Regions from separate parts of the Homo sapiens genome. Here regions 2 and 3 are each linked to region 1. Evidence: fine-mapped expression QTL. A gene starts in region 1. Each other region holds a variant in brackets. All regions are shown on one strand. Distances are between the middles of the regions.

Region 1 (8,254 bases):
GCTGTAGCTTGTCCCCAGCCCAGGGCCCACACAGGAGCTGGTTAGGGTTCTCAAGGGGCCCTGACTGCTCACCTGCTGTGGGACACACCCCTACGGGGCCCAAAGAAGCTGCTCAGCCTATAGGCCGTCAAAGGACATTCAGCTGCCAGGGGTGGGTGGACACCTGACAGGTCCAGCTGCAGGACACCTCAGTGCTGGGACCCGGCATCCTCACACTTGGCCTCGGAGGCCTTTTCATGTCTGCTGCTGTCCGCGTGAGTCCATTGCTCCCCCCGCTCCCCGTGCCTCTGTCTTCAGCATGGGGCCTCCCAATGGACCTGGGCTCCTGTCCTGGTCTCCCACTGCAGACCCAGATGGCCCAGCATCTCCCACCATCCCTTCCACCCAGGGCTTCCAGTGCTACCCACCATGCTGTGTCTGCTCTTCCCAACCTCCACTGTCAGCCTGAACCTCTACCCACAAAACCCAACCCCAAACCCAGGCAGGGGTGGGCGCGGGTGCCAGGCAGCAGGGGCTTGTCCCGGAGAGCTGTCCTCCTCCTATGTGACAGCTGCCTGGCCTGGTGCTCCCAACTGCGGACGCAGAACCTGTGCAGGAAGCCGTGGAAACAGCTACAAGCAGGCAGGTGTCCCGGGGAACGCTCCTGGTCACTGACACGGTAACACAGGTGGAGCTGGGAAAAGCATTGGTGCTGGGGTGGTAGTGACCCCCACCCAAGAAAGTCACATTGACCCGGAACCTCAGAGTAAGACCTTACGTTAAAATAGGATCTTTGTAGATGTAATTCGATTAAAGATCTTGAGATTATCCCAGCTTCTCCTGGCGGCCCTTAAATCCAGTGACAGGTGTCCCGATAAGCAAAGGAAGAGACAGACACACTAACTCGGGGGAGGAGGCCCCGTGAGGACAGGGGCAGAGGTGGAGCCATGCGGCCACCACCCAGGACCGCCTGGAGCCACAGAAGCTGGAAGAGGTGGGAACCTCCGGAGCGCACAGGCCTTGATCTCGGACTTCTGGCCTCCTAAGCCGTAAGAGGAAAGCCCTGTTGTTCAACCCATTTGTAGTGATTTTCTAAGGATCCCCAGGAAACATCTTATAACGGGACACTTGGCGTGGATCACATCATTGGCTGTGAGTCGGTTTTCAGTAATTGCAGGGTTAATGGAGGCTGTCCAGGTCTGGCAGTGGAGCAAGAGCTGGGGGCCAGGAAGGGCCACCGGACGGGCAGCCATGGCCAGGTGAAGAGCCTGGAGTCCCGAATCAGGATCCACCTCTCCCTGCTGAGCAAGATCCTGTGCCCCTGTTTCTGGTGATTTTGTAAGTGCTGACTGAACCGACTGTCGCTGGGAAATAACACACCCGTGACCCCAAGCCAAAGTTTCACCCACAGACAAGGAAACAGACTCCATGAACACGCCGACTCCCGACGGTAGAACCGGGGTGCCCACCCCAGCCCCGGTCACTGTGTGTCCTGCGCAGGGGCCAGGGCAGCCCAAGGCTCAGCTCTGTCCTCCTGCCCAGACCTCGCTCAGCCCCCTGGACGCCGCCCCGCGCCCGCTGCCTCTCCTCTCCTCTCCTCCCAAAGGCTCCAGGACCATGTCTGCCTCTGAAGCCTGACGTTACCTCCCACTGCGATTTTATTGTAAACTCACTGCATTTATGTCAAGAGAGTTTGTACAGGTTTTGGAAAATGCACTGAAGAGTCCCCTTGTGCCTATTAGGACGGTAAGAACACACCAAGGAGAGATTATTTCATTATTTCTTTGATGCTGTTAGTAGGATCTACCCGAGGGGGAGGCACTCCGGGCTCCGCGGGACGAGAAGGCAGCCGAGCCCGCACCCGAGCAGGAGGGAAGCAGGAGCCGCAGCGTGGCCGCCGCACAGCTTCGGGGGTCCCCCGACTTCCCAGCTGCGAGTGTGGAATTTCTCAGGAGAACTAGACAGAAGCCCATCTCTGGGCAGCACTGAGTGGAAGGAGAAACCACAGGAGAGGAGAGGAAGTGTGGGGCGCGGGACCACCGTGGGGTGGGTGGGGGCCAAGCCGCCGGGCTGTGAGGCCTCAGCACCCCCTGCCCAGCACCCAGCACCCCAACTTCCCCTTCTGCCTTTGCGGATTCCAGGGCCTGCTGGACACCTGGTGCAGGGACAGAGCCGGGGCTGGGGGAGGAGCTCAGCTGCACTAGAGTCCAGCTGGAAGAGTCCAGCTGAAAGTCACCAGAGGCACCCCTTCCTCCTGGGGGGCTGCGCCTCGGCCTCCTCCAGGGCAGGTGCCCCTATGCCCCTCAAGTCCCAGCACCCAGCACCACAGAACCGCCCTGTCATCTCGGCCCCGGAACCTTGTGGGGAGCCAACTCCTGCGGAGGGCCGGGCAGCCCCGGGCGGAATGAGCCCCCTCCGCAAAGCCTGTCTGGGGAGCGGGGGAGGGGCGGCAGGTGCCCGGAGAAAGGCGAGATTGGAAGAGCGGCCGGGATGGTGGCGCTGCATACGGGCGACCTGCAGGGAGAACGGAAGCTGAGGCCGGGGTCAGGGGTGCGCGCTCCGCTCCTCCACTCCTGCGTGAAGGGCGGCCCACTCCCGAGCAGCTGCGCTGGGCGCCCGGCACGGACCCGTCTCCCTGCTCAGGTCGATCCCCGGCCGCGCTGCCCCCACCTGGAAGCCCAGTCCCCTGGGTGCGCCCCGCCTTGGGGTCCGAGCACCCTCACAGCCCGGCCCTGCCGCTTCCCTGCACCGTCTGCGGCTCCTTAAAGAACTGGGCGCGGTCGGGGCTCGCCCCGCACCGTCCTCGAGGCCCCGCCGCCAACCCACCCCACCCCAGGAGGCCGCGGCCGCGCTCATCCATCCCCCGCCGCACCGTCAACGCGCGTCCTGCGGGGCGGAGAGATCGGGGTCCGGTCGTCCCCGGGGGGCCCCAGAGCCAGGTGAGGGGCCCCGCCGCCCCCTGCCCAGCGGTTCCCACGACCCGCGGGTCGGCCGCGCCCTGCGCTGAGCGGATACCCGGCGGTCCGCGGGGCCTGAGCAGAGTCGGCCTTGTAAGGCAGAGGTCTCGGTGCGCCCGCGCGTCCCCGGGCCGGGTGGGGCGGCGGGGGCGGGGCTGCCAATGAGCGCGCGGGGCGGGACGCTGGGCGGGCGCCGGACGCTGGGGGCCGGGGGCGGGCCCGGGACCGGGCTGGGCGGGGCTGGGCGGTGCTGGGCGGGACGGGCGGGCGCGGGGCGGCGGCTGGAGAGCTCCGCTGAGCACCGGGTCGCGCGCGGCCGAGTCGCGGAGGCGCCTCCGCTGCAGTCGCTGCGTCTCCAAGGTAAGCGGGCGCGGGGCTCGGTCCCGCGGGCGCGGCGCGGGGGGCACCCGGGGGCGGAGACTGGGCCCGTCAGCCCCAGCAGCCACCTGCGCCGCAGCCCCTGCCCCCCGCGCTCCCCCGAGCCCCCTTCCCGGACCGCCCCGCGCGTCCCTGAGCCCCCGGATTGGGATGCCCGGAGTTCGGCGCTGCGGGCTCGGTGCGAGGACGCGACGGGGAGGCTTTGCAAAGGCCGCGAGCGGGGGTCACCGTCGGCCGCGCCAGGGACAGGTCTGTCACCGTCTCCGGGCCCTGTGCCTGGCGCTTTGGCCTTTCTTCGCGGCCACGGACGCCCCTGCAGCCCTTCCCTCCAGACCCTCCCCAGCTCGGGACTCGAACCGTTTCCCTATTCCCAGGCCTAGGGGGCCGCCGGTGTGAGGCGTGGGAAATTAGGGCGTGGAGGGCTGGAATGAAGTCACTGCCCGCAGCAGGTTTTGAGAGATCCCTGGCCACAGAAACGGCCCATCTCAGGGTCCTGACACCACCGCGTCCTGGCAGGTGGGGCTGTCAGACCGCCCCCCGCAGAGCCTCCAGCTGCCCCGGGTCTTGGCTACTGTCCGCGGGCCTGTGGCGATGGAGAGGCGCTGCCGGGACACCTTCCCGCACCCCTGGGAGCAGCGCCCGAAGATCTGAGGAGCCCTTTATTCTGCGGTTTCGGTTACGTAAACGGAGCCGAGGGAGGTGAGAAGCCTGTCCCTCCCGGGCAGTGGCGGGGCTGCTGTTTTGATAAGGGTTTTGGGGGGGCTGTTGTCTTGATGGGGGTTTGGGGGGCTGCTGTTTTGATAGGGGTTGGGAGGCTGCTATTTTGATACGGGGTTGGGGGCTGCTGTTTTGATAGGGGTTTGGGGGGCTGCTGTTTTGATAGGGGGTTGGAGGGCTGCTGTTTTGATAGGGTTGGGGGACTGCTGTTTTGATAGGGGGTTGGGAGCTGCAGTTTTGATAGGGGTTTGGGGGCTGCTGTTTTGATAGGGGGTTGGGAGGCTGCTGTTTTGATAGGTGGTTGGGAGGCTACTGTTTTGATAGGGGGTTGGGGGGCTGCTGTTTTGATAGGGGTTGGGGGCTGCTGTTTTGATAGGTGGTTGGGGGCTGCTGTTTTGATGGGGTCTGGGGGGCTGCTGTTTTGATGTGGGGTTGGGAGGCTGCTGTCTTGATGGGGGCTTAGGGGGGCTGCTGTTTTGATAGGGGGTTGGGGGCTGCTGTTTTGATAGGGGTTGGGAGGCTGCTGTTTTGATAGGGGTTGGGGGGCTGCTGTTTTGATGGGGTCTGGGGGCTGCTGTTTTGATGAGGGGTTGGGGGCTGCTGTTTTGATACGGGTTGGGGGGGCTGTTGTCTTGATGGGGGTTTGGGGGGCTGCTGTTTTGATGGGGGTTTAGGGGGCTGCTGTTTTGATGGGGGTTGAGGGCTGCTGTTTTGATGGGGGTTGAGGGCTGCTGTTTTGATGAGGGTTGGGGGCTGTTTTGATGGGTATTTGGGGGCTGCTGTTTTGATGGGGGTTGGGGGCTGCTGTTTTGATGGGGGTTGGGGGCTATTGTTTTGATGGGGTTTGGGGGGCTGCTGTTTTGATGGGTATTTGGGGGCTGCTGTTTTGATGGGGGTTGGGGGCTGCTGTTTTGATGGGGTTTGGGGGCTGCTGTTTTGATGGGGGTTGGGGGCTATTGTTTTGATGGGGGTTGGGGGGCTGCTGTTTTGATGGGGTGTTGCGTTCCCTCTCAGTGTCACCGCTGATCCACCTGGCATGTTTATTGGCTCTTCTGCTTGCAGGGCCCCTGGGGGACCGATAGAGGACTGGGCCCCTCCGCCCACCCCGGCCACCCCTCCCCGCCTGACTTCTCAGGGGGAGAGGTCTCCCCCCACGCCCAGCCAGCCCCTGCCCCTGGGAGGTGACCCAGCTCCCTGTGGCCTGGGACTAGGAGATGGGGCTGGACCAAGGCCGGGAAGGGGCAGGAAGTGGAGGGGAGTGAGGCAGCTGCAGCCTGATGCCGCCGCCTTGAACTGGGCTCTCGCGCCTGTCAGCCGCTCGGTGCCAGCGCCTCCCCACCACGTGATCCTCGGAGGGCCTGTGGGGGAGGGGCGGGCTCCCGGAGCGGCTGCAGAAGGCGAGCTCCAGGAGGGTGTGTGCGTTTTCCCGGGAGGGGTCTGCAGCTTTCATGGTTTCTAAACGGATCTCTGATTCAGAAAGGCGCCGGCATGAACTCGCTTTGCATCTTCACAAAACATGAAGTCATGGGGATTGGACCGCGTGTGCGTGGAGGAAGCTCCGCTGGTCACTGGCTGCGTTTTAATCTTACAGCTGCGGTTGGTCTATCTTCCCGAATTCCCTGAAGTTGCAATAAATGTTTTAGCGATTATACGAGGTTATAAATGCTCGTTGTGGAAATGAGCATAGAATGCTCACAGAAATGGTCAACAGGGGCTTCCTTTTGACCCCCTACCCTAATTTGCAAGCCTCACACTGGCAGTGGCTGCCCTAGGCCTGGGAATCGGTAAACAGGGTTCGTGCACCGGGCTGGGCAGGGCCCGGAGGGAGGGGCCGCAGGGGGCTTCCGTGGGCACAAAGGCCAAAGCGCCACACGCAGGGCTCAGGAGAACTTCCTGAAGAAAATTAGGATCACCCATCGCAGATGGAGACTGGGGAGCTCTCTGGAGAGTCAGGCAGTCTGTTCCCTCCCAGGCCTGTGGGAGCCACCCCCTGCAGAGGACGCAGAGAATTAAAAGCTTCCTCGGGAGAGGCCGTGCCAGCAGAGAGCCGAGTCTATTTATAGCTGTTGGTGAGACAGGGGGAGTGTGTGAGAGGGATGCCATCTGGGGCTCTTGGGGCCCCCAGGCCAGTGCTGGTCAGCGCCCTGCAGTACCTGGCCCAGCCTGGTGCCCTCAGGCAGAAGCGCCTTCGGGAAAACACTCTGGGTGAGGAGAGTCGCTCAATGCCTCCGCCTGGGCTGGGGGAGCCAGAAGGCTATGCCCAGGAGGGTTGTGGCCGGGTGTCTAGTCCATCTGAGCCCACAAACCCTCAGCCAGGAGCCAGGATCAGGCAGCAGAATCTACACACGCCTAGTTCCTACTGCTCGAGCAAAAGGTGTTTCCTGGGAAGGAAGGGGTGGAGCTGCCTGGGTCAGGCCCAGCCACATCTGGGGCTCAGGCCTTGTCCCCAGCATCCACGAGCCAAACCCCAAGCTGCCCTGCGTGGATCCTCCTCCTAGGGAGACCAGCTTCTTCTTGGTGTGTGTGTGTTTGGGGTTGCCACAGGGCCATAACCCACTGCATCCCCCTGATAAGATCTTCCACCCAGGGCAGCCCCCACCCAGGGCAGCCCCCACCCAGTTGATCCCCCACCCAGATGATCCTCCACCCAGATGATCCCCCACCCAGATGATCCCCCACCCAGATGATCTGCCACCTGGATGATCCCCCACCGGGGACATCCCCCACCCAGGGCAGCCCCCACTCAGATGATCCCCCACCCGGGGCAGCCCCCACCCAGATGATCTCTCACACAGGGCTTCCCTCCTAGGGCATCTGCAACAGGCTTTCCCCCTAAGGTGACATCCCCCTCCCAGGACATCCACATCCCAGAGCCACCCCCTCCCAGAGCCACCCCCTAGGCCATTCCTTCACCAAGGCTCCACCACCCAGGACAACCCCCACAAAGATTCCCCACCCAGAGCATCCTCCCCACATGGCATCTCCACCCAGGGTATTCCCCCACCCAGGGCATGTTCCCCACATGGCATCCCACGTTTGACTTCTTGGCATGATAAAAGGTGCCTGCCCATGTGGGCTCCATGAGATCCCCCAGGGCGCATGGCATCACAGACCACATTTCCCAGATCCTATAACCTGTAACCCCAACCTGCTCGTTTGTTCACAAATGTCCAACGTGGCCTCCGCCCAGGGAGTGCCACCAACAGCCGCACCTGCCAGGCGACTTCACACAGCTGCTGTCCCCCTCTGGCCATCAGTCATCAGTCAATGGGGCCAGGAGCAGTGAGCACCGTGTATGGGGTATGGAGGTGGCTTCAAACCCAGGCCCTGGTCCAAGGGCCCTCATGTCTGACACAGGCGAGCTCCCAGCACCCTCTGCCTTGTCAGGAGTATGTGACATGCCTTCCTGGCCCACAGAGGTGGGTGAAGTGTGCGTACCTCAGCGTGCCCATGGCTGCCACTCACTGTTCACCCACTCACACTGGATCCCCGCCCAGAAACACACCAGGCCAGTCCCACCCCACTCAGAAGTGCTGCTGGTGCCTCAGGGCCAGGGAGCCATGTCCAGGCCCCAGCCAGCCCCGGGGACCTGACCCAGCCCCTCCCCCTGAGCCCAGGGCACCGCTGCACAGCCACCTGCATCTCCCACCCATGGCATCTCGCAGGTGACCTGGCCACCGTGGCTGCATCTGGGGCGTCCACCCTCTCCTGCGCACACCGGCCCCCGCTTCTCCTAAGGCTGCCCAAGGGCCGGTTTTCTCTGCCCCTCGGCGGGGTGGCACCTCTGCCTTCTCAGTGCCTGAGGAGCCTGGGCCATGGACAGAGCCACTGGGGTGAAGCTCATCTCAGCCTCACCTCCCACCAGGCTTGTTCCTGCCACCTTCGTCAGTGCCCACGTGTCCCCAGGCCGCCTGCTGGGAGGGCCCCACCTGGCACCTGGCACAGTCCACCTGCAGTTCTAGTGCCAGCCGTTCTGGGCCGCCTCTCTTCGTGTTCCGGGAGTGGGATGGGGTCTTACTCACCGTCCGTTTTCCCGTCGAAGCTGCAATTCCTGAGCACTGTGCTTTGGCTTTGCCTGTTTTTAACCTTTAACCAGAAGCCACGTGGTGGGCACACTGCTGTGCTGGCTAACGTGGATCAATACTGTGCGCGAGTGGTCCGTCCACACTGCGTCGAGGAGCCCCAGGTGCTCGTGCTCAGCGCCGCCCACACTCCCACGGGGA
Region 2 (8,000 bases), 180 kb before region 1:
ACAAACTAGATCTTAAAAAACTAATGCAAAAAACGTAAAAATATGAGTAACGATTTCTTATGGCCCACATGTTGGAATAAAAACATCTTCAATAAATTTGTCTAAGTAAAATGCATTAGTTAATTGAATGTTAAGAGTAATTTTAATGTGGCAGCTAGAATTTTAAGAGCTGGGTATGGTGGCATGCACCTGTCATCAGCTCCACAGGAGGCTAAGGTGGGAGGATCACTTGAGGCCGGGAGGTCGAGGCTGCAGTGCGATTGCACCACCGCACTCTAGGCAATAGAGCAAGACCCTGTCTCAAAAAAAAGATAAAAAAACATTTAGAACGAGGCGTGTGCTCGCGTTATGTCTGCTGGGCAAGGCTGATCTGGGTTCTTTCTCTCTTTCAGAGAATACTGATGATCATTTTGGCAGTTGTTACTTGTGGATAATGGCCGGATCCTACCAGGCTTGTCTGGGGTGGGTCCAGGGCAGCCTTATTCTAGGGTTCGTGTAGCCTTAATGCTAAGGAGTGGCCCTTCGGGGAGCCCTGTCTTTTCAGCGTGGTCTCTGCTGTGGGTGGAGTTCGGATGAGTCTCTGTCCTTCCCAGGCTCTGAGAACGTTTGGCTCATGGCTCCCAAGGAGGGGTCAGTCCCTTGACCTGACGGTTTCATCTGTGCTTGTTACAGATGAACTGGGGTCCACATGCCTGGTGCAGTAAACCCAGACACCCATGCCGAGGTTTTGTCATAGAAAGGACGTGTGTATTTGCAGGGCGCCAAGCAAGGTGGGCCAGGAGGCTCATGTATAAATCCTGGCCTCCCCCACTGGCTACAGGCAAGGCTTGTAAAGCGGGGGTAGATCTCAGGAAAGCAGAACTGAAAGGCAGAGTCGTGCATAAGGACACAGAGGTTACATGTCGGCTTGGCCTAGAAGGGCGGTATCTGCAAGCAGGGCCTTATAGGTTATAGGTGGATTCAAAGGTTTTCTGATTTGCAGCTGGTTAAGGAGGAGAAGCTTTGTTTAAAAATTTGGGGTGAAGAGAAAAGAATGTTAGCTTAGGCTTGTGGGTGTGGCTTCCTCCAGGCCCGTCAGGAAGAAATTCAGAACAAAGAACGGGGTCAGAGCTCAGTCTTCAGTTTCTCCTTATCTGAGCCCTTCATGCCAGTAGATTAGTTTGTTGGGGAGGTCCTAGGTGGAGGGTCCAGGTTTCTGAAAGACAACTCAGGGATATACATTAAGATGTTATCTTTACTTTCTTTCTTTTTTTTTCTTTTTGAGACATAGAGTCTCACTCTGTCACCCAGGCTGGAGTGCAGTGGCGTGATTGTGGCTCACTGCAACCTCTGCCTCCCTGATTCTAGCGATTCTCCTGCCTCAGCCTCCCGAGTAGCTGGGATTACAGGCATGCGCCACCACACCTGGCTAATTTTTGTATTTTTAGTAGAGGCGGAGTTTCGCCATGTTGGCCAGGCTGGTCTTTAACTCCTGACCTCAAATGATGCATCCATCTCAGCCTCCCAGAGTGGTAGGATGTTGTCTTTTCTTTCTACAGGGAACAGTGCTGGGAGGTTGTCTTTACTTTCTACAGGGAACAAACATCTGTCTCCACCTTCCTTGACTGTTGTTTTAGGATACTGTTACCTTCTTGCTTATCAAGTCGCTGATTTACTTCTCAGAGTTATCTAAGTAACTGGAATTTCCCTTGAAGGAACTCAAGATTTTCCTTGATTTCCATGCTTGGAGGGCTCGCAGGCCCCTGAAGAGAGGGTTGCAGCCAGGCGGGAGTCCCCAAGCAGATTTCTGCAGCTCTGAGGAGCAGCCCCCTCTGCAGAGCCTGCCCCACCAGCTCGTGGTTCTGACTCTGAGCTCTGGTCACCCTCCCGTGTCGTGGCCTGCAGGCTCCTTCCAGGCAGGAAGCTGGCCCCCCCAACACAGCGTTAGAATCAGGCATTGCTGTGGGGTAGGGAAAGTGACCCCCTCACAGCCCGGAAATGGGAAGGCTCTGTGGTTTCCTCTCTGGGTTCCAGTTAGATTCCTTTCGGGAAAGTGAACTTGGATATGGAGTTGAGTGACCCCGAGTGCACCCCCGCAGTAAATGATGCTCAGGACTAAAGTGACTGAAGGCTTTTGGGGAAACAGATGCGAACAAAACAGCAGTATTCATTTTCTAATTAAAAGCTTGTGAAAATCGATGTCATTGAATCTGAGAAACATTATTTCGAACAAAGATCACACATGATAGAGTGCATATACTACAGCATCGCTCCACCGGAGCACAGGACGGGTGTGCCACGGAGGCCGACAGTTGTGGAAGGAGACAATGCACGGCCCGGCCCACCTGCTGCAGGCACCGCCAGGAGGTGTCTGCCTCCTTCGCTCCTGCGCCCACGGCAGGCCCACCTGCCACAGGCACTGCCAGGAGGTGTCTGCCTCCTTTGCTCCTGCACACACCTGCCCCTGCAGGACTCGAGCTGGTCTCAGGCAACTGGTCATATTCCAGGTGGAACCCACGAGACCCTTCTTATCCTAAGCTTCCCATAGGATCTAGGCACATCTTTTTTCTTTTGTTTTAAGCCACCCAAGGCTGCCGAAACAGCATCGGCGTCCTCTCTCTGTCCGCTCCATCTCGCCCTGTGGAGCGCTGTCCCCGGCACACAATCCTGGCGCTGAGGAGGGGGCTGGGCGTGGTTGGGTCAGTGACTGGTGATGAAGAAGGTTTGGAGGACCCCCAGCCTTAATCCATTAAGATGGTGTGACTGGGGAGCAGAATTCGCAGAAGCGCACAAGCCATTTTTACGTGTGTGTAATGTCAGCGAATTGTCCGTTTCTATGAAATCACTCTGGAAAAACTAGTTTCTGTCCTCATTTACTTTTCAGAGAAGAAATGTTCCCATGAAGCCTCCAGATGAAGCCAAGGTAAGTTTTTGAACATGGAAGGGCAAGCCAAATATTATTCTCACAGGGAAAGTTGTATCCAGCCTTTGAGGTGGGGAGGTCTGTGTGTATGACGGCGTTTAGAAATGGAGTCCGTTTCTGATCAGTAAGATCAATAGTGTTTCTCCTCCTCTTTTCATGACTTGAGGTGAGTGGTGTGAAGCCGCAGTACATTCTTCCAAATCCAGAAATGGGTAGTTTCAGAGCAGTTGGCCCCGCTGGGTGCTGTCCTTGTGGGACACCCTTGCAAGGGTTGGGCAGGATGGGCCTTCTCAGGACCTGCTTGGTGAGTAGCAGGTGTTGTCCCAAGCACAGTGGGCTCTGGGGCCAGTGCTGGCAGGGCAGTGCTGTGAGCCCAGACTGCTGCACCTGCCGATTGGCAGGTGTGTGTCTCTGACAGTCAGCAGGCATGGGCTTGGGCTTTGGTCCAGGGTCCCTGGGAACCTGGAGAGACCCCTTAACATCTGTTTGAGGGCAGAGGCCGAGCTGCAGGGAGCTGATGAGAGAGTATGTGTTAGGGTGGCTGTAGTCTAGCCCTGAGGACACGCCTTGCTGGGAAAGGAAAGGGAACGTTGTGTGCTCTGTGAAGTGCCTGAGAAATAGTCCTGGACCCTAAAATTCTGTGTGTCTTCCTGTTGCATAATGTCCCTCCCCAATTTCTTTAGCCCCAAAAAGTTAACAAAGGATTGTTAGTTTGCGTTGTTGGTCTCAGTAGGTTTTTCTTTGACATGGATTTGCATATCCATTCATGAGCTCCAACCTGACAGTCCCTTGAACAGCAGCCTCAGTGAACAGGGCTTGGTCTTGTCACTTACTGAGGGGTGGGTTCACGTTTAGCAAATAATTAGAGTGATTTCAATAGCGAGTGTGAAGTAACATTTCGTTTTTCGTTTGATGTTTGAATTGCTCTTGATGTGTGTCTGTCTCCACAGGTTGGGGACACCCTAGGAGACAGCAGCAGCTCTGTTCTGGAGTTCATGTCGATGAAGTCCTATCCCGACGTTTCTGTGGATATCTCCATGCTCAGCTCTCTGGGTGAGTTGTAACAGGCACTTTCCCACAGCACCTGGTGAAGGTGTGATAGAGGAAGAAAACACACGGCCTCCACCTCCTCTCCCTTCCTGACTAGACAGGGATGCCAGGAAAATCTTTTGTTACGGTATTTGGTCTTTGTCCCAGGTTTTTGGACCATAGCTCCTAAAATCCTTGGAATCTCCTGAGTGTTGTGTCTTTTTTAAGCTAATGAGAAGTGGTTGCAGCCCCTGGGTAACCTCAGGATGGGGTCTGGCCGATCCCCAGTGGCTGTGGATTTCATCAGTGTTGCCTACCGCCTCCATGAAATCCCAAAAGGTGGGGTTCCCTAGGGAGCCTCATTGCTGGACGCCTGGAGGCTCTGGGAAGAAGGCAGCCCCTTCCCACGGGTCCCCTCTGCATCGCTCCCACCTGGGGCCCATCCGTACCCTGGGTGACACCCCGCAGAATAAATGGGTAAATGTCAGCCTAGTGTGTGGACAGAAGAGTCAAACTCTGCAGGGTATTTAGAGAGGTTTCTTCTGAGTGAAATACGAAGACCGTGGCTGTGACACAGTCCCAGGAGGTCCCAAGAACATTTGCCGAGGAGGACTGGTCTGCAGCTTGTTTTGATA[T/C]GTTTTAGGGAGACAGAGGACATCAGTCAGTACATGTCAGTTGTAACAGTGGTTCGTGTTGGAAAGGCGGGACAACTTGAAGCGAGGAATGTCGGGTCGTTGGTGGATTCAGAGATTTCCTGATTGGCATTTGGTTGAAAGGGTTAAGCTCTGAAGAGCTGAAGTCAGAAAGAAATGTGCATGGTTAACATAAGCAGTTGTAGAAGCCAAGGTTCTTGTCACATAGATGAATTCAGCCTTCAGGTAGCAGGCTTCAAAAAGAGTAGAGTAGATGGCAAACATCACTCATGAGGCCCTCAAAGGTACCAGATTGTTAGTTAAATCTCTGTTGGGTCAGGAAGAGACTTGGAAGGGGCAGGAGATTCTCTACAGAATGTAGATTTTTCCCACAAGATACAGCTTTGCAGGGCTATTTCAAAATATGTCAAAGGGATATATTTTGAGATAAAATACTCAGTTTCTTTCAGGGCCTGCCATCTATCACGTGATGCTGTACTAAAGTCGGATCGGAATTTGGTGTCTTATTACCACGGAGTCTGCTTTGTCAACCTTCAGATTTCTGTTTTAAAGTTAATGCTGGTCAGCTGTGCCTGAATTCCAAAAGAGGGGATAATGAGGCAAGTCCAGTCCCGCTTCACATCATGGCCTGACCTCATTTTCCAGGTTGACTTTGGAGTGCCCTTGGCCAAGAGTGGGAATCCGTTCAGTCCATGGGGCTTAGAATTTTATTTTTCATTTACAGATGTTTCCCTGACTTCTGTGAGTCACTCTAGGAAATTCATAGAGCTCAAGTCTGGTCTTCTGGGAACCCCATTTGATAGCTGGTTAGTCGGAAGCACAGACCACAGCCTGGGGCTTTCAGTTGGCATCAGCCGGTGGGGCCATCCTGGAGACTGTGCCCTCACCTGGGAGGCTGCCGGTGCAGCGCCCCCGAGCTGTTCTGACCTCCAGCAGCATTTGTGGTGCCTGGATCCATGGGTCCCACTGCTTTGCGTGGTGACGTTCCACCTGTCTCTGCTGGCTCTGTTCAGGCACTTATGGCCGTGATTTATTATAGGGGAAGGGTGCCAACAGCAGCAGAGGGACAAGAGTGACATCCAAGGAAACCCAGCGTGAGGCCCAGATCCACTCCCAGCAGAGGCACATGGGACACGCTTAATTCCCAGGAGTGAGCTGTGACAACACACGTGAAATGCCCACCAGGGAAGCCCGTCAGAGGCTTGGTGCTCGGGGTCACAGGGCACCCCCTTGCCAGGCAGGTACCAAAGTCCAGACCCCGGAGGGAAGGTGAACTTTAGCATAAACCACTCTGCTCCTGTTGTTGGAGCTGTGAACAATCCCTAGCACTGGGGGGGACCCCAGATGCCAGCCGTGGCTGGCCTTGCCTTCCAGGGGACCCTGGCCCCAGGCCGCTGTGACAGCACTTTTCTGCACAGCAGCTGTTTTTCTCAGCACTTCTAAGATTTTGTCCTTATTACTACTTCTCAGCAGCTTGGTGCTGATGGGCTTTGGTGCTGATGTGCTGTGGTGTGTTAGTCTGTCCTCACACTGTTATAAAGAACCACCTGAGACTGGTCATTGGTGAAGGAAAGAGGTTTAATTGACTCACAGTTCCTCAGGCTGTTTGGGAGGCATGGCTGGGAGGCATCAGGAAACTTCCAATCATGGCGGAAGATGAAGGAGAAACATGCATGTCTTCACATGGCGGAGCAGGAGAGAACGCAAAGGGGGAAGTGCTTTGAAACAACCAGATCTCATGAGAAGTCACTCACTATCATGAGAACAGAGAACAGCAAGGGGGAAATCCATCCCCATGATCCAATCACCTTCCACCAGGACCCTCCCCTAACATTGGGAATTACAATTCAACATGAGATTTGGGCAGGAATACAGAGCCAAACTGTATCATTCTGCCCCTGACTCCTCTCGAATCTTTTGTCCTTTTCACATTTCAAAACACAATCATGCCTTCCTAACAGTCCCCTAAAGTCTTAACTCATTCCAGCATTAACTCAGAAGTCCACAGTCCAAAGTCTTATCTGAGACAAGGCAAGTTACTTCTGCCTGTGAGCCTGTAAAATCCAAAACAAGTTAGTTAATTCCAAGATACAAATCGGGTACAGACATTGGGTAAATAGACCTATCCCAAGAGGGAGAAATCAGCCAAAACAAAGGGGCAGCAGGCTACAAATCTGAAACCCAGCAGGGCAGTCATTACATCTTGAGGCCCCGAAAGAATCTTCTTTGATTCCTTGTCTCACATCCAGGCTACACTGATGCAAGGGATGGGCTCCCACGGCCTTGGGCAGCCCCGCCCTTGTGGCTCTGCAGGGTACAGCCTCTGTGGCTGCTTTCCCTGGCTGGTGTTGAGTGCCTGCAGCTTTTCCAGATGGCATGGTGCAAGCTGTCGGATCTACCATTCTGAGGTCTGGAGGACGGTGGCCCTTTTCTCACAGCTCCACTAGGCAGTGCCCCAGTGGGTACTCTGTGTGGGGTGAGGGCTCCAACCTCACATTTCCCCTCTGCACTGCCCTAGCAGAGGTTCTCCATGAAGGGCCTGCCCCTGCAGCAGACTTCTGCCTGGACACCCTGGCTTTTCCATACATCCTCTGAAATCTAGGTGGAGGCTGCCAAACCTCAGCTCTTGCCTTCTGCCTACCCACATACCCAACACCATGTGGAAGCTTCCAGGGCTTGGGGCTTGCACCCTCTGAAGCATCGACCCTTTTAGCCCTGTACCTTGGCCCCTTTTAGCCATGGCTGGGACACAGAGCACCATGGCACATGTCCCAGTGCTTCACAGAGTAGTGGGGCCCTTTTCCCTCCTAGACCCCCAGGCCTGTGATGGCAGTGTCTGGGCAAAGGTCTTTGAAATGTCCCTGAGGTATTAACATTTGGCTCCTCTTTACTTACGCAAATGTCTGCAGCCTTCTTGAATTCCTCCCCAGAAAATGGGTTTTTCTTTTCTACCACATGGCAGGGGTACAAATTTTCCAAACTTTTACTCTCTGCTTCCCTTTTAAATATAAGTTCCAGTTTCAGGTCATTTTTCTGTTTGTGCAAGTGAGCATAGGCTTTTAGAAGCAGCCAAGTCACCTCTTGAATGCTTTAGTGCTTAGAAATTTCTTCCACCAGGTGCCCTAAATCATCTCTCTCAAGTTCAAAGTTCCACAGATTTCTAGAGCAGGGTCACAGTGCTGTCAGTCTCTCCTAAAGAATAGCAAGAGTGACCTTTGCCCCCATTCCCAATGGGGTCCTCGTCTCCATCTGAGACCACCTCAGCCTGGATTTCACTGTCCATATCACTATCAGCATTTGAATCATAGCCATGCAGGAAGTCTCTAGGTAGTTCCAAACTTTCCCTCATCTTCCTGTCTTTAAGTTCTCCCAGCTGTTCTAGCCTCTGCTCATTACCCAGTTCTACAGGGCATGTC
Region 3 (8,254 bases), 61 kb before region 1:
GACAGCAGCCCCCTGGCCTGGTGCAGGACCCGCCCTGCTGGCAGCCTTCTGCTAAAATCCCTACGTGGCTTTTTGCACATGGCCAGCACCTTCTTCCTCACCCCTGGGGCCAAGGAGGACAGCGCTGTGCGACACAGGCCGGCAGCCTGCGTTTCCATGCCAAGCTTAGGCCACACTGTGAGGGCCTCTGGGCTGCCCTGTGGAGATGGCTGTCAACCCTGAACTCATGGCTAGAAGGCGGTCCAGGAGCCAGGCAGGGTGACGGGAGGGCCCCGCACTCCACCCCTTCTATTTGGTTGCCATGGGGAGTCTGTGTTTGTCCCAGGGTGAGAGGAGGAGGGAGCCAGTATCTGAGGGCGGAAGCTGACGTTCCAGTCACGGGGAGCCCAGCTTCTCCTGGCTCCAGGGGACAAGGACCCTCTCCCCAGTGCCCCCACAGCCAGGCTCCGAGCCCAGAGGGCCCAAGACAGAGGCCCAGGGTCCCTGAGTGAGTCTGGGCTCCCTGAGAGAGTCTGGAGTCCCTGAATGAGTCTGGGGTCCCTGAATGAGTCTAGGGGGTGTTTCCCTGAGCAAGTCTCGGGGAGAGGGTCCGTCAGTGAGCCGTCTGGGGTCTAGAGGGAGCGGGTAGGTTGTGCAGCTCCCTCGCTCCTCCCCCTGCTCCTCCTGTCTGAGGCTGTCTTCTCTCCCAGTGCTCAGGGGTCTCTGGTATGAAAGAACCCAGGCTCCTCCAGGGCCTTTGGGGCTGTATCCGGCTGTGTTTACACCTGGGGCGTACCTCCTGTGGCCCTGCTCTGTCCCTCAAGCTGTAAAGGGTTTTGGGGTCACTGTGCTTGGCTGGGCTGACTGAGCCTCTGGGGGTGCGGTACATTCTGTGGGGGATTTGCCCTGTGTCCAACAGGGATGAACCAAAAGGGGCATGGGGGCAGCCTTCCCGGTCCCCGACTGGCACAGGGCTGTGTGTGCAGGGCCGATGGGTAGCCTCATCTTCTCTAGGCCTGGGTGAGCAGGGCTGTGTGTGCAGGGCCGAGTGGACGGGGCTGGGTGAGCAGGGCTGTGTGTGAAGGGCCAAGTGTATAGGGCCATGTGTGCAAGACTGGACAAGCAGGGCCATGTGAGCAGGGCCAGGCCTGGGTGAGCTGGGCTCACGTGTGCAGGGCTGGGTGAGCAGGGCTGACCAGTGGCCACGCCTCTTCTGGGACCTTGGGCCTCACGGGGACGCCTCATGCCAGGCTGACCAGGCCCTGGGCCAGGTTCTTCCTTGACATGCCAGGTGACCGGGGGGATCTTCTCGTTCCACCTCGTCGTCCACCTGATCGCGTCCTGCATCGACCCGGCCGACTCCAATGTCAGACTCATGAAGAACTATTCTCAGCCCATGCCCCTCTTCGACAGATCAAAACATGCACACGTGATCCAGAATCAGTTCTGCCACCTGTGCAAGGTCACCGTGTGAGTGCCCGCCCTCGCCGAGGCCCCAAGGTGTCAGGGTCACCTCCAGGGTCCTGGTGCTCAGGTCACTGCTGGCCCCTCAGGGCCCGTGCCATGGCCGCAGCTGATGCTAGTGGAGCTTCCAGGGCCCGGCCCTGTGGCTGCGGGTGGATCGCCCCTCATCTCGCTGTGAACCGGGCGCGGTGCCGGGCCGCCCCAACTCCTCCGCAGGCAGGGCTGAGACTGGAGGGCTGGGTCTGTCACCTGCAGGTGACCCGCTGCTCCCCTGGAATGAAACACAGCAGCACTCAGGCATGTTTGGTCCTCAGTGGATTTTGTGCACGAGGTCCCTCCCCTGAGGGCCCAGGGCAAGAGAGCACTGTCTTTCTTGGGGAGTTTCAAGACAAGCCCCTAGGAAAGTGGGAGGTAAGGGTTCCAGTGTCTCCAGGGGCCCTGGAGGCCTCTGTGATGGCCTAGGGGGTGGCTACAGGGCTGTTGTCAGCTGCAAGGGAGGCCCTGTAGGCACAGGTGGGATCCAAGCCCCCGGCCTCAACTCCTGGAACCATGGGGCAGGCGCGGCCTCCTCCAGGGCCATGGCCCAGAGTGAGGCTGGTGTAGGATGGCTGGCGGGGGGTCTATGCTCAGGGCGGCCACAGACACAGCTCCTCCTGCTCTGTGGCTACCTCTGCCCACAGCTGCCCTGCTTCTCCTCCTCCCCACAGGCCTCAACACCCTCCCCCAGCCTCCCATTCCCTGCTGGACGCCCTCTCCCCAGGCCGCACAGGGCTGGTTCCTCCGAGGCACCTGGCTTCCAGTGATGGACCTCTGGCCCTGCCCCAACCTGCGCACTTGGGGCCTGACAGGCGTTCCCCGATTCATCCCTCCAGGAACAAGAAAACCAAACACTGCATTTCCTGCAATAAGTGTGTGTCCGGCTTCGACCACCACTGCAAATGGATCAACAACTGCGTGGGAAGCCGGAATTATTGGTGAGGGGCACAGAGGGGATGGCCGGCACGGGCCAGGCTTGGGGGAATTTGGAAGGGAGGGGTCTGTGGGCAGGGGTCCTCGTGTTGAAAGGGTGGAGGGTCCTCTTGGGGCCACGTCCCTGTCCTGATGTGGTGGCGCTTGGTGCCTGCGTGCCCCGGCCTCCTGTCTGGCTCTGGGGCTGTGGTGCAGCCGTCCCTGGACAAGCTCATCCGCATAGAGTAAGTCCCTGGAGGCCCCCCGGGGGCACTTGCGGGGCCACGCTGGCTGAGGCCTCCTGACCACGCTGTCCTGGGCTGGGCTGCCTTCTCTCCACCCAGGCTGAGGCTCATCCAGCACAAGGGTGGGGCCACGGAAGGGCAGTGGGCACCCAGCGCAGATGGACGAGAGGTGTTTCCCCTGAGCATGGTGGAGGCTCACAGATGAGAGGTGTTTCCCCTGAGCACGGTGGAGGCTCATAGACGAGAGGTGTTTCCCCTGAGCACGGTGGAGATGCAAGGAAGAGAGATGTTTCCCTGAGCACGGTGGAGGCTCACAGGCGAGAGGTCTTTCCCCTGAGCATGGTGGAGGCTCACAGGCGAGAGGTGTTTCTCCTGAGCATGGTGGAGGCACAAGGATGAGAGGTGTTTCCCCTGATCACGGTGGAGGCTCACAGATGAGAGGTCTTTCCCCTGAGCGTGGTGGAGGCTCATAGGCGAGAGGTGTTTCCCCTGAGCACGGTGGAGGCTCATAGACGAGAGGTGTTTCCCCTGAGCACGGTGGAGGCTCATAGATGAGACGTGTTTCCCCTGAGCATGGTGGAGGCTCATAGACGAGAGATGTTTCCCCTGAGCATGGTGGAGGCTCATAGATGAGAGGTGTTTCCCCTGAGCACAGTGGAGACTCATAGATGAGACGTGTTTCCCCTGAGCACGGTGGAGGCTCAAGAACGAGAGGTTGTTTCCCCTGAGCACGGTGGAGGCTCATAGATGAGAGGTGTTTCCCCTGAGCACAGTGGAGGATCCAGGGACTCTCAAGGCCCCGTGTGCTGAGCCCCGGCTGTCTGCAGCACTGTATTGTGAAGATCACCAGGGAAAAGAACCACGCCTGCTCCCCAGCTACTCTGTGCTGACCTGAAAGAGGCCTTGGTGTGCGTGGGAGTGGGGACCAACGTTGCCTGGTGTCACAGGACGCACCGGGGGG[T/GT]CCCTGCCCTGCCTCCCTGCCATCCCGTCTGGAGCACAGCATGTGTCCAGAGAGGCTGAGCAGCCCGGCAGGGACAGAGAGGTTGCATGACCGCACAGCGAGTCCAGAGGCTGCGTGAGATGGTAGGGGCCGGGGAGACCCACCCGCCTCCTCCCCTGGAGAAGAGCAGCTCCACGATGGCCAAGGTGGGGCCAGCTCCTCTGGCTCATGCTAGCCCCAGGTGCCACTTCCTTCTGGACTCATTCTGCTCTGGTGCCTCGAGCTGGCTCAATCTGGCGGGTCCTGGTGGGGAAGGTGAGGGGGTGAGGGCCCACAGGCAGGTGGCAAGGAGAGGGTCTGCCTTCCTCAGGAGGGGTGCTGGAGAGGGACCACGTGGGTGCCAAGTGTAGACACCGCCTGTGTGTGGGAAAGGGGCATCAGGAGAGCAGGGCCGGGGTCATGGGCGCCCTCAGCTCCAGGCAGCAGCCAACGCCGGCATCTGTGCCAACCTCGCTTCTGTCCCTTCATCCGCCAGAGGCGGAGAGAGCAACGGCATTGAGAGCAAGATGAGGAAAGTTGAGGAGCTGATGGCAGAGCCCCCGCGAGGGAGGCCGAGCTGATGGCGGAGCCCCCATGGGGAGGCCCAGCTGATGGCAGAGCCCCTGTGAGGGAGGCTGCATACTTCGTAGTGATAAGAGAGGAAGGGGGACGGAAAGAAGGCAGGCGGCGCTGGTGTCCTGGGAAGACTGCGAGCGCTGGCCTCGGACTCTGCAGGTTAAACACAGGCAGCAGGGGCAGGAGGCTGTGCTAACCAAGAGGAGAATGTCCCTGGGTGGCTGCGGGGAGAGGAGGCCCCGCGTGAATGGGTCTGCCCCATCCTGTGGGCTTTGGTCTCTGTGGTCTCTGGTCTCTGTGGTCTTAGAGACCCGCCTTCTTTCCTGGATGAAGAGGGGAGTCCTCTCCAGACAGTAGGATGAGGATGAGGGGTCTTTACTCCCCACAAGTGGGCTCGAGCCCAGGAGGACTGGGGGCAGGGTAGGGCGTGTCCACTGCCTGGAGGGGCTGCTGCTTGGGAAACCTAAGCTGTGAGAGGGAAGGCAGTATGAGGGAGCAGCAGTCAGGGAGCCGCTCACGCCCGGAGCCACCCCTCACCCCTGGATTATCCAGAAGACTCTTGGAGGGAGGAGGAGCGCGGGGAAGGCAGCTGTGCCCTAACTGCGTCTTCGGACGACTGCGGCATTCATGCTCTGGCCTCCAGTTGAAAATAGAAAAAGGGATTTAAACAAGCTTAGGTGAACATAATACAATGGAAAGGATTAAAGGAGGTTAAAGGATACTTTAAAAAAAATATCATCATGGCAGAAAGACCAAGGGAAGATGGTTTAGTCAAAGTGTGTTCCAGGAACTGCTGCCCAGAATTGGTTTTTCTGGATGGATTATTCTCTGCATCTTTTGAGCAAAGACGAGAGACTGGGAGTGGATTTGGTCTCAGGTCTACAGCATGGACATCGCTTTTGGCTCAGATTTGCACAAGACCCTTGGAGAAGGGGGGACTGCAGCCGAGGTGTGGCCGGGCTCCTCCAGGGCCTCCTCAGCCTGAGTTCCCTTTGGGTGCAGAGATCCAGGTCCCTGAGCCTGCAGGCCCTCCTGGGTGCCACGGCACTCTCATGGCTCTCCCCTTCCCTGGCTTCAGTGCCTTTGCCCAGCATGGTGCCATGGAGACCCCAGCACAGACCATGCTCAGGGCCCCCTGAGGGGACCCAGCCTGCGTGCTCCTTGGCTGGTAGGGAGGCCTGTCTGCATCAGGTGGAGTCGGGAGGTGCGGGCAGAGGCCCCAGAGCTGTGACACTGGAGACGCCGTGTGACCCTCATGCTCCGCTGGTAGGCTTGGGCGAGTCGCACCGCATCTCTGACCTCACTTTCCCCACTCGTGAAAAGGGCTGGTTCCCCCTCCTCACAACCTCATTGTTCCTTGTGGGGATTAAAGGCAATCACGTTTGCAAGAAGCACTGCCTGAATTGTCAGGCGGTGTGCTGGTGGGAATGTCCCACGGCCACCCCTCTCCAGCGAGAGGCCTGGAGACCTGGGGGGGCGTCACAGGATGGCACAGAGACAGGAGCCTGAGCTTCCAGGCATGGTCGGGAGCAGGGTTTGAGGCCAGCATCGGGCAGTGGCCAGGAGCCCTCTCTCAAGTGGACGCCCACGCTGACCTGTCACCTCCACCCTGCGGGCTCCAGATGCCCTGCGCGTCCCCATCCCTGCCTCTGCACCCCCCACCTGCCCTGCATGCCCCCACCCCTGCCCCAGATGCCCTGCGTGTCCCTGCCCCTGCCTCTGCACCCCCCACCTGCCCTGCATGCCCCCGCCCCTGCCTCAGATGCCCTGCGTGTCCCTGCCCCTGCCTCCCCGCCCCCACACCTGTCCCACACCTGCCCTTGCGTGCCCCCTGCCGCTGTGCCCCCCACGCCCGCCCCTGCCCACCCTGTGCACACCCCCTGCCCCCGTGCCCCCCACACCTGCCCCTGCGCCCCCACTGCTCCCACGTCCCCACCCCCATGCCTGCCTGTGTGTCTCCCGGCAGGTTCTTCTTCAGCACTGTGGCCTCGGCCACAGCTGGCATGCTCTGCCTGATCGCCATCCTGCTGTATGTCCTCGTCCAGTACCTCGTGAACCCCAGGGTGCTCCGCACGGACCCCAGGTATGAAGGTACGTGGCCGCCGCTCTCAAGGGGCCTCATCCTCGCCTCCAGCCGTCTTTCCGGGCGGTAGTATCGGGTCTGGGGTGGTCGGCCCCTCTTGTCCCAGGGAGAGGCCGGGGCAGGCAGCCCCATGCAGGCTCTGACCTGGCCCGACGGCAGCAGCCCAGTGTTCATACAGCCCAGCAGCCCCCAGCGCGCGGGAGGCAGGCTCGGGGAGGGCGCTGGCCACGCTGCTCTGTAGATGCTGCCAGGTCGTGTCAGGCGAGAGACAGTGGGGTCCACCTCTGCCCCTGCCCTCCGCAGTCAGCCCTGTAGCACCTGTCACACCATCCTGTGGGGCCATGTAGCTGTGGGAGGGTGGGGGTGCCCATCCTGCAGGAGCAGCCCATGGGGAGGGAGAGTGGAGGCAGCGCTGAGGGTGCTGGGCTGTAGGCTGCGGTGTGCTGAGGCCCTTGGCCAAGTGGGCCCGGAGCCTGGGCCTCGGGAACCAATGCTCACACTGAGCCACTGGAGAGACGTGGCGGTGAGGACTGTGGGCTCCAGAGGCGAGTCCACGCCTAACCCAGATCCCGTGATGCCAGCATCCTCGGGAAATGGGCCTGCGGCTGTGACTTAATATCTGAGGTGGGAGGGTCATGCTGGGATGTCCCAGGGAGCCCAAATCTAGCCACGAGTGTGCTTGTAAGAGAAAGGAGAGACGCAGAGGGGAGGGGGCCTCGTGAGGATGGAGGCAGGGGTGGAGTCACACAGCCACAGCCCGGGGTCGCCCGGAGCCACAGGAGCTCGCAGAGGTGGGAGGACCTCCCTGGACCCTGCGGAGGCAGCGCGCTCAACTGTCCTGCAGCTGGACGTCAGAGCCCTGCCTGCCTCAGACTGCAAGAGTCTGCTGGAGAAGCTGCCCCCACCCGCCACCATTTGATGTATTTATTGCAGCAGCGCCAGGACCCTGACCAGGAGGACCTGGGCCAGAGAAGCCCCTCGGGGTGCAGGACAAGACTGCCAGTCTCAGCTCCAGGCATGGCTGCACCCGCACTGCACACAGCCCGGGTGGTGAGACAGGGAGGACTTGCCTGCCCTTGTTCCAGAACATTCCGGAGCCAACACGGTGTGACATTTTTTTCAAGGATGAGCTTTGCCAGCTCCACGTGGAAGTCCCTAAAGCTCCTCCTTCCACTTCGAAGCGTGACTGATGCCTCCAGGGCCTCACAGCCGCTTCTGAAGCACTTCCTGAAAGCCAGCTCCACCCTGGCGAGGCCCTGACCTCAGCGGACCCAAGCCCAGGACGATGCCTGTTGCGTTCTTCTCCCCCTGTAGCAAGTCACCTTCCCCAGCAGCCTCCATGTTGTCTGGGCTCTCCCTGTGGGGGATGCCAGGGGAGAGTGAGAGAGCAGAGGTGGCCAAGATGGCATGTGCTGCCTTCTCTCCTGGAACATGCTGCTTCCACACGGCAGTGCCAGTGTCTTTGTGTGAGTTCATTGATTGTGGCCTGAGCGAATTCCTCCGTTTGCTGTTCCAGATGATTCTGCAGGGCTTCAAAACCAGCAAGGCCCTGAGCAAAGCAGCTCCTTGTTCTCATGGGCTGAACTCATCGTGATGTCACTGGCTAAGGGGGGCAGCATGGGGTCCAGCCCGGCCCAGGCACTTTGAGCTACTGTCCCGTCGGGCCATCTAGGAAGGCCCCCAAGGCCGCCAGTTCCAGAGAGGGTCCGTCACCCAAAGACATCCACACTGAATCCAACCCTCTGCCATTCTGCCTTGCCCGACCCTCTGCCATTCTGCCTTGCCTGGCCCTCTGCCATTCTGCATTACGCCTGATTTTTGGAAGTGTTGTGGTTTTGAGTGTTGGCAGCCCAGTGTCACAGAGGACCATATCTTAGAAATGACCCCAGGTGAGAGCTGTGGCTTTCCTGTTCTATTTGAAGGCGGCTGTTTTAGGGTGCAGAGGGTCCAGGGACACAGCGTGGGCCATGAGGAAGGGAT

Which allele goes with the higher level. Alleles are on the strand shown, and positions count from the first base shown. SD is a standard deviation of normalised expression in the study named. Not every link is listed here.
With allele GT in place of T in region 3, the expression in spleen of the gene that starts at base 3,222 in region 1 is higher (moderate effect, 0.43 SD a copy in GTEx).

What was found.
Region 2: its variant is fine-mapped to the expression of TPPP in whole blood (TOPMed, PIP 0.97).
Region 3: its variant is fine-mapped to the expression of TPPP in spleen (GTEx, PIP 0.98).

Annotation. Positions count from the first base shown.
Region 1 is chr5:688,320-696,573 of GRCh38, reverse strand. It overlaps TPPP (tubulin polymerization promoting protein), which reads left to right and starts at 3,222. Exons shown (of 4, transcript NM_007030.3): 1 at 3,222-3,296. LOC101929898 (a long non-coding RNA gene) reads right to left here and starts at 3,034. Exons shown (of 2, transcript XR_925675.4): 1 at 2,852-3,034; 2 at 1-2,493. RefSeq lists enhancers at 1,422-2,300, 3,214-3,796 and a silencer at 2,970-3,219.
Region 2 is chr5:866,428-874,427 of GRCh38, reverse strand. It overlaps BRD9 (bromodomain containing 9), which reads left to right. Exons shown (of 16, transcript NM_023924.5): 13 at 2,864-2,902; 14 at 3,853-3,955. Among named protein-coding and RNA genes, the nearest start is that of ZDHHC11, 19 kb to the right of the region's middle. The variant T/C (reference allele first, on the strand shown) is at 4,567.
Region 3 is chr5:749,161-757,414 of GRCh38, reverse strand. It overlaps ZDHHC11B (zDHHC palmitoyltransferase 11B (putative)), which reads left to right. Exons shown (of 14, transcript NM_001351303.2): 5 at 1,271-1,449; 6 at 2,316-2,417; 7 at 6,158-6,282. Among named protein-coding and RNA genes, the nearest start is that of ZDHHC11B, 31 kb to the left of the region's middle. RefSeq lists enhancers at 2,943-2,992, 3,013-3,092, 3,203-3,282, 3,416-3,915 and a silencer at 5,278-5,468. The variant T/GT (reference allele first, on the strand shown) is at 3,598.